Linked DNA regions of Homo sapiens: region 1 is linked to region 2. The links come from fine-mapping of genetic effects on gene expression. A gene starts in region 2. The other region holds a variant in brackets. All regions are shown on one strand. Distances are from middle to middle.

Region 1 (4,399 bases), 320 kb after region 2:
TTTAAACAAAAAAAAAAGACTTTGTATCTTTACAACTAAGAGAAAATTAACCTTTGTAGCTAAGGAAACTGGGGAGCAGAGAAGATAAGATAAGCATTTTCCAGCTGAGGACTTGTCTGTCTACAGGATCAGAGACCATGGAGCCTCCTGTACTCAAGAGATAGCTGCTGCTGAAGACCTGGCCCCAGGTGAATAACATAGGCAAAGGAACAACAAAGCCAGAATGGGGAAGAGTGAGCAGAGCATCCAGAAATGGCGGTTGCCAGCAAAATAGAACTGCTGAAAAAGGGCATGGCAACTTGAACAGAAAAAGTAATTAGTGCAATTGAGGAGCTTCAATTACAGCGTTAAACTGGAACTCAAGAACATGATTTTTTAAGTTTAAAAATATAGCAGATGTACTGAAAAAGTGTATGGTAACTATTGAGAAGTGAACAGAGGTCTGGAAGTACAAGGGAAAGAAATCTCTCAAAAAAGCAAACATTTAAAGTCAGACATCAAAAAAGCAAATATAAAGGAACCAGAAGATGGATCTAGAAGTTGTAACTTGTAAATAAATAGGAATTTCAGAAGAGTAAAGCAATCGAAGGAGGAGAGACAATATTTAAACAAACAGGTGAAGAAAATTTTACAGAGCTAAAGAAAGAGTTTCATCCTCAGAATTCTTTGAGTTTCAAGGAACAGGGGATGAAAACCGGAACACACTAGAGATTCCATTACTGTGTTGTAATTCCAAGGGTAATGACAAAGTTCTACAGTCTTCTAGATAGAAAGAACAAATTGTTTACATAGAAAAAGATTAAGACTGGCTTTAGATTTCTAACTACAACTTTAATATCAGAAAGTAGTAGGATAATAACTAGTGGCAACTGACGGTGTGATTTAAAAATCAAAACCCAAACACATATTACTTAAGAAACCCACGTTAGGCCAGGCACTGTGGCTCACACCTGTAATCGTAGCATTTTGGGAGGCTGAGGCGGGCGGATCACTGGAGATCAGGAGTTCAAGACCAGCCTGGCCAACATGGCAAAACCCTGTCTCTACTAAAAATACAAAAATTAGCTGGGCGTGGTGGCACATGCCTGTAATCCCAGCTACTCAGGAGGCTGAGGCAGGAGAATCACTTGGACCCAGGAGGCAGAGGTTGCAGTGAGCCCAGATCATGTCATTGCACTCCAGCCTGGGTGATAGAGGGAGACTCCGCCTCAAACAAACAAACAAACAAACAAAAGAAACTCACTTTAAACAAAGTGAGAAAGAAAAGTTAAACTTCAGAGGATATGTAAAAAGATACTGCCGGGCACGGTGGCTCACGCCTGTAATCCTAGCACTTTGGGAGGCCAAGGCGGGTGGATCACCTGAGGTTAGGAGTTCGAAACCAGCCTGGCCAACATGGTGAAACCCCTTCTCTACTAAAAATACAAAAAAATTATACAGGTGTGGTGCAGGCACCTGTAATCCCAGCTCCTTGGGAGGCTGAAGCAGGAGAATCGCTTGAAGGCAGACGTTGCAGTGAGCTGAAATCGTGCCACTGCACTCCAGCCTGGGCAACAGAGCGAGACTCCATCTCAAAAAAAAAAAAAGATCCACCAGATAAATATAAATCAAAAGAAGTCAAGTCTAGCGGTCCTATTAGCGGTCCAAACAGCATGCATATTAATATGTAATGACAAAAGGCAAATTGATAACAGAGGTATAACAATCATAAGTCATGTTCACCAATCATTGTAGTAGCTAAACATATAAAGCATAATCTTTATGTTAGGAGATTTTAACACACCTTTTTCAGACTCACATATATCTAACAGACAAAATAAATAGAAACAGAAGAATAGAATAAAACAAACAACAAATTTGACCTAAAACATGTATGGAATGTTACATTTCATAACTATATTTCTTTTGTGTTTTAATGGAACATTTACAAAAGTTAATCTTGTTTTTGTTTCCAAAGGATATCTAAGTCAATATACAGGAGTAGAGATTTTATAGGCCACATTCCCTGATTATAATCCAAAAAAGAAAATAAAAGGAGTAAGTAATGAAAAGGGATACCCCTCAAAAAACCCTCTAATTACTTGAAAATTAAGAAAAAATATTCTAGGCCAGGTGCGGTGGCTCACTCCTATTATCCCAGCACTTTGGGAGGCTGAGGTGGATGGATCACTTGAGGCCAGGAGTTTGAGACCAGCCTGGGCAACATAGTGAAACCCCATCTTTACTAATACAGAAAGAAAAAAAGAAAAAAAAAATTAGCTGTGTGTGGTGGT[G/A]CGTGCTTGCAGTCCCAGCTACTTGGGAGGCTGAGGCATGAGAATAGCTGGAACCCAGGAGGCAGAGGTTGCAGTGAGCTGAGATTGTGCCACTGTACTCCAACCTGGGTGACAGAGCGAGACTCTGTCTCAAAAAAAAAAAGAAGAAAGAAACAATATTCTAAATAACTCTTATCAAAATGTAAACAAAACTGAAATTACAAACCATATACAAAGCAATGAGGAAAAAGTTCATACCAAAATATACACAACATAGTTCAAATTATTCCTATGGGAATTCATAGCCTTAAATATTTTATTATTAAGGAAAAAATTTAGGCCAGGCACAGTGGCTCACCCCTGTAATCCCAGCACTTCGGGAGGCCAAGGCAGGCAGATCACTTGAGGTCAGGAGTTTGAGACCAGCTTGGCCAGTATGGTGAAACCCTGCCTCTTCAACAAATACAAAAATTAGCCAGGCATGATGGTTGAACCAGGAGTCAGAGGTTGCGGTGAGTCGAGATCGTGCCACTGCACTCCAGCCTGGGTGACAGAGTGAGACTCTGTCTCAAAAAAAAAGGAAAAAAAGTTAAAAAATATTTAAGGTCCAGTTAAAAAATTTAGAACAAGAACACCAAAATAAACAAAACATAAATTTGGAAGAGAGAATAAAGATGAAAATTAATGAACAGAAAACAAAGTATAAAGGGGAAATAAATCTAAAAGCTGATTCTTATGTAAGACTCCCCCAAAGAGATAAAATTTCAGGGAAATCTCCAAAGGCTCAACTGCCGCACACCAAGAAAGAACTAGAATTTGAAAATGTGATGTGAGAGAGGTCATATGACAGGCAAGAGAAAAGTGCAAACAGTGCTGCTGGCGTGCCTTCTTCCCCGCCCCCACACTGCCCACCCCAACTCTGGAGGAGCCTTGTGGGGGTGATATGGTTTGGCTCTGTGTCCCAACCCAAATCTCATCTCTAATTTGTAATCCCCATGTGTAGAGGGAGGGAGGTGACTGGATCGGGGGGCAGTTTCCCCATGCTGTTCTCATGATAGTGAGTGAGTTCTCATGTGATCTGGTGGTTTTACAAGGGGCTCTTCCCCCTTCGCTTTCTCCTGCCACCTTGTGAAGAAGGTGTCTGCTTCCCCTTCCACCATGATTATAAGTTTCCTGAGGCCTCCCCAGCCATGCAGAACTGTGAGTCAATTAAACTTCCTTCCTTTATAAATTACCCAGTCTCGGGTAGTATCTTTATAGCAGTGTGAAAACAGACTAATACAGGGGGGCAGGTAGGTAACAGGAGCAATCAGACCCCTCCTAGCCAGTGGCATGGAAGGTAGTGAATCAGGCCTGAGCTAGGGAGAGAGGATAAACTTTGAATTGGATGAGATACTGAGGTTTTACTTTAGGTTGGATGGAACTACATAATCTAAAAATGGTAGTGTTGTTAGAATCTGAAGTGACTGAAAAACTCATGGGATCTATCGGAAAAGTCACCAAGAGCAAGGAAAATGTTTCTGACAAAAAATGCTTGAGGCAAGAGTGGAAGAAAACAAAGCTGTTCCCTGACTACACCCTATTAAGCCCGGCTAAGTCAATAAGCCTGTTGTTACACCTGTGTTTCTGGCTATCATTTTCCTTCACTGGACTGGGAGAAATTAAGCATCAAAATTATGAATTAATGATAGTAACACATATAGTCCTTTGAAGGAAATTAAGAACCATGAGTACATATTGGTACATATAAATATATGAATAAATTAAAAGTTTGATAAGAGAGTATTTACTTAGTTTCAAAGTACTTCCTGAAAGAATACTAGAGAAAGAAAACATAAATTCATGCTGGAGAAGAAGAAAAGACATCATCTTAAATAAGCTATCAAATTGGACAACAAATCCAAGGCATGTGCCATCTGACACGAGGAATACAATGTTGCTTCTTGCTTCATTGAATTTTTTTCCAAAGGTGCATAATTTGAATCTAATAATGAGGAATATTTTCAAACCCAAATTCTACAATATATCTGGCCTATAAACTTAAAAAGAATTCAAGAATGAGAAATAATTTCCAAGTTGAAGAAAATTAAAGACACATGAGAAAGAAATGCAATGTGTGCTTCTGAATGGGATGGCTTTTTTCTCTT
Region 2 (4,399 bases):
TTTAAAAATGTACGTTGCAAAATAATATGTATACTATAGTCCCGGCTAGGCACAGTGGCTCACGCCTGTAATCCCAGCACTTTGGGAGGCCAAAGCAGGCAGAATTACTTGAGCTCAGGAGTTCAAAACCAGCCTGAGCAACATGGTAGAACCCATCTCTACAAAACACACACACAAGAAGCCTGGGCAACATGGCAAAAACCCTATCTCTACAAAAAAAATACCGAAATTAGCCAGGTGTGATGGCACGCACCCATGGTCCCAGCTGCTCGGGAGGCTGAAGTGGGAGAATCACTTGAGCCTGGAAGGCGGAGGTTGCAGGGAGCTAAGATCGCGCCACTGCACTCCAGCTTGGGAAACAGAATGAGACCCTGTCTCCAAAATAAATAAGTAAATAAAAGACTAAGACTAATATATAAAATATAAAAATGCATGCTTATGTTTTTAGGAACTTAGAGAAAAATGTAGATGATATTAATTAACTGTTAACATTGGTTTCGTGGAGGACAGCACAGAAGAGCTCTGGGAAGGAGACGATAGGCTTTATCTTTGTGTACTTGTGTTACTGGCTTGTTGCAAGAAGCAAAAACTTTTTTGTTTGAAAGAAAAGTCCAATAAAATATTTAAAGAAAAAGAAACCCCAAAGCACTCTTGTTTAAAAATAAAAAAAAAAATCAATTGTACAGGGGTATATAAACCAGAAAGGGAAATCAGGTAATCTTCTTAGGTAACCTGCTTTATTTACTCATCAATATATCAATGGTATCTTTGTATGTCAATAAAGTAGATCTTGATTACTCTTTTAAATGGCTTTAGAGTATTTCATTGTTTGGATATATTATAATTTAATCAATTCTTTATTGTTATACATTTACAGTATTTCTAGTTTTTCTGGTTATAAACAATAACGGTTATCCTTGTATATAAATCATTGCTCACTTGTTCCAGAAGTTAAATTGCTGAGTCAAAGGATATGCATACTGCTAGCATACCTTCTAGAAAGACTGTAGCAGTTTGTAGTCCTACCAATAGTTTATGACATGAGCCTAAAGAATTATCTAAGGAGGTTAGCTGACTAGCCATTCTTCCTGTAAGCAGCAAAAAGAATTTGCTTAGATTAGTAATTGGCAACATTTCACTTCACTTTGATGTACAAAAGGATGTGGGTAGAACTACAATTGTGCATTCAGACATGATAATTCCTACTAACTGGGGGTAGGAGGGCCCACAGGAGTGTAGACTAGAAGTAGAAAGAATGAGGAAAATAAGTCTTTTGTAGCTGTATGGCGATTGAAGAGGAGATAAAACAAACTCTCCAGCTTTTCAGGTTGGGTGACTTGCAGCGCCATCGTCTGGCAAAGCCGCCAAAATCTTTCAATGTCCCTAGGAATAAAGTTGCCCTGAGTAGGGCCACTCAGGATGACGCCAGATGATATCCCTTATTATAGTTTTAGGGGAATCTCTTCCTACCTTCGCCAGTCCTGCAGTGAAAAAATGTACTTAGACTGCTGTACATTTCCAAACCCTTCAACATACAGACAAGTAATTTATACATACATTAGATGTAAAGGTGTAGAAAACCCCATACAGCTTTTTAAAAATATCTCAAGACTTAAACATTCTTCTGTTTCAACCATCCAAGATATAATAGGAAAAGACTTGCTTTTTAAAGCAAAATTGCTCTTTAAAATGTGGCATCCCTAAGTAGTGCGCTTTCATGTAAAATAAAAAAGTCCCTTTCTCGGTGTAGTAGCTGTGGGAAAATTTTATATGCTTTATATTCCAAATTGGTTTCAACTAGTGAGTTCTCTCCCGCATCTCTGCATGACTCTTAACAGCTTTACACTCTCTCCATCCTTTTCATCTCTCCCGTCTCGTCCTTTCTGTCTTCCCGCCTGCAGAGCCCGCCCCTCCCGTCCCTTCGCACAGCACCCCGCCCGCCCCTTCGCACAGCACCCCGCCCGACCCTACGGTTCTAGCCCAGCCTCACTGCTCCTTCCCAGCCGCCTCCGCTGCGTGCCGCCTTCCACGCGCTGACGTCACACGCCAGCGCCGGTGACGCGCCGGCCGCTCTCCCTTAGTCCGCATTCGCTCCAGGGTTTTGGGACCCTAGGTTGCGGAGTCCTTACCCTACCCTGGCCTCTCGAGCAGTTGTCCCCATAACTCGGAATCTAGAGCCGCTGTTGCGAGGCAGGAGCACGTGGCAGTCAAGTAGCTTCCCAGTCCCGAACGCCGCCCGTCCCCACCCCGCCGTGGCCACTAGCAACGACCTCTGTGAAGTTGGAGAGGCGGTAACGGAGGCACTCCCCCTGCTGCACCCCGCCGTTTCTACGGGGCTCAGAAACCAGTTTGTTTGTTTCGTCGGGGTAGTGTCGACCTGTCTTACGGGCGTCGCCCGAGACAGGACGGAGTCAAACCCGTGGTATCAACTGAAGACGAGTGTCAGGTGTGGAGAGTCTCAGTGCCCCCTTTCAGTCTGGACTGTGAGCTGCTGCTGGTTAGACAGTCTTGGTTTCTCTTTCAGGATGTCATTTTCAAAATGCGGGATGGTACCTCTGCTTTATTAAGCCCCGTAGGAAGACTGCCACACCTAGACTGATGCTTATTAGTCATCACCGTTATTCCTACTAACGTCCTGTGTCACTGAGGTGAGTTCCACTTGGGGGAAGGAATGACATGCAAAATGGTAAAAATCATCCTGGAAATGAGATGTGCGTAGAACTGCTTATATTGAGATTACACAGATACCTTAAGTGTTTGCAGGGAAAATACCTTAATCTCATTTAAATGTTAATTCTCTAAGACACTCTGTATTAACAAAGCGATTCTTGGACATTACGGTATTTTTAAAAACTAGAGCGGTAATGGGATTAAAATAATAGGAATCTTAGTATGGATAAGCAAGCATTTGCATTGCTTATGTTGTGTCCAATCTTAAATTACTGATAAATTTTAATTAGGAAGCGAATATGAGTAGTAGTTAGCTGGTTACCCTGTAATCTTAGATTTCTGTTTCCATGATTTGACACAGTTTCCATATGTAAGGCATTAATTGTTGTACTACTTTAAGAGTTTATCATAACTTTTTTTGCAGGCCTATTTTTTGTTCTTTAAGATCTGCTTTAGGAAGCAGAAATATTTTTTATTGCCTTGGTATGTTTCATTAGAAATGTTTATGAAGGATTAAAAGTGGCATCCAATCTAAGTTAATGACCTTTTTTTATGATGCAGCAGTATTGTAGAGCTGATGGAGGGGAGCCAAATTTGGAGAGAAGTAACTCCTTGTTTCTAGTTTACATTTGTCTGGTTTTAGAGGTTCTACAGATCTGTTTCACTTAAAATATCCATTGTTCTAGGTGAAATGTAAGGAGCCTATTTTGTGGGAAAACAGGTTTTTTTCACGTTAAAAGTCACTGTCAGGAATTTAATAAAGGTCGTCGGACTTGACCACAGAAGTTCTTTTGAGGTCGTGTGAATAGTACATTGACATTGTATTCCAAGTAAATTTTGCCCTGTCTAATCTCCTGCCTTCTAGTCTAAGTCATGAACATGACACCTTTTCACGAATGTACATTCTTTATTTACCTGTTGGTAGTTTCTACTACAAAATCTGTTGAATATTGTCTGAATAGACTTACAGAGAAGAAAAAATATTTTGAAAAAAGTCTAATAGAAATTCCATTTTTGCTTTCTGCTTTTTCGAATAAAGGAAGATAAAGAACTTTTTTCCTGAGAAGATAAATGGATCCCCTCCCACTATTCAAGATGGTATTTATTGCTTAGGCAGAACTGTATGTATGGATTGTAGCTGCATACAGCGCCAAAAGACTTCTTGAAACCTGTTGCCATGCCTTTACCATGTTTCCCTTCAAGACAGCCTGTCTATAGAATATCTGAAACACCTGATGAGAGCTTAATGCTTAACCTAAGTATGTGTTCCAGATTGATCGAAGTTGAGCTTTTCCATTCATATACTCTAAAATTGTTTATATGTGGCTCACAAAATTTTATTATGTCCAAAATTGCTTATTTGTGGCTTTAAAGAAATTCTTAGTGGCTGGGTGCTGTGGCTCTTACCTGTAATCCCAGCAGTTTGGGAGGCCACGGTGGGTGGATCACTTGAGGTCAGGAGGTTGAGACAAGCCTGGCTGACCTGGCGAACCCATATCTACCAAAAATACAAAAAATTAGACGGGCGTGGTGGTGCGTGCCTGTAATCCCAGCTACTTGGAAGGCTAACACAGGATAATTGCTTGAACCCGGGAGGCAGAGGTTGCAGTGAGCCGAGATACTGCCACTGCACTGTAGCCTGGGCGACTGAGTGAGGCTTGTCTCAAAGAAAAAAGAAAAAAAGAAAGAAATTCTGGGTCAGACGCTGTGGCTCACACCTGTATTCCCA

Evidence for each region. PIP is the estimated chance that this variant, and not a neighbour inherited with it, causes the effect.
Region 1: its variant is the best candidate, but not a certain one, in a credible set for the expression of NEK1 in whole blood (INTERVAL, PIP 0.85).

The regions. Positions count from the first base shown.
Region 1 is chr4:169,287,135-169,291,533 of GRCh38, reverse strand. All of the region lies in intron 2 of LOC105377529 (a long non-coding RNA gene), which reads left to right. Among named protein-coding and RNA genes, the nearest start is that of SH3RF1, 18 kb to the right of the region's middle. RefSeq lists a silencer at 1,031-1,195. The variant G/A (reference allele first, on the strand shown) is at 2,274.
Region 2 is chr4:169,610,269-169,614,667 of GRCh38, reverse strand. NEK1 (NIMA related kinase 1) reads left to right here and starts at 2,085. Exons shown (of 36, transcript NM_001199397.3): 1 at 2,085-2,446; 2 at 2,525-2,648. RefSeq lists enhancers at 2,013-2,072, 2,493-2,612.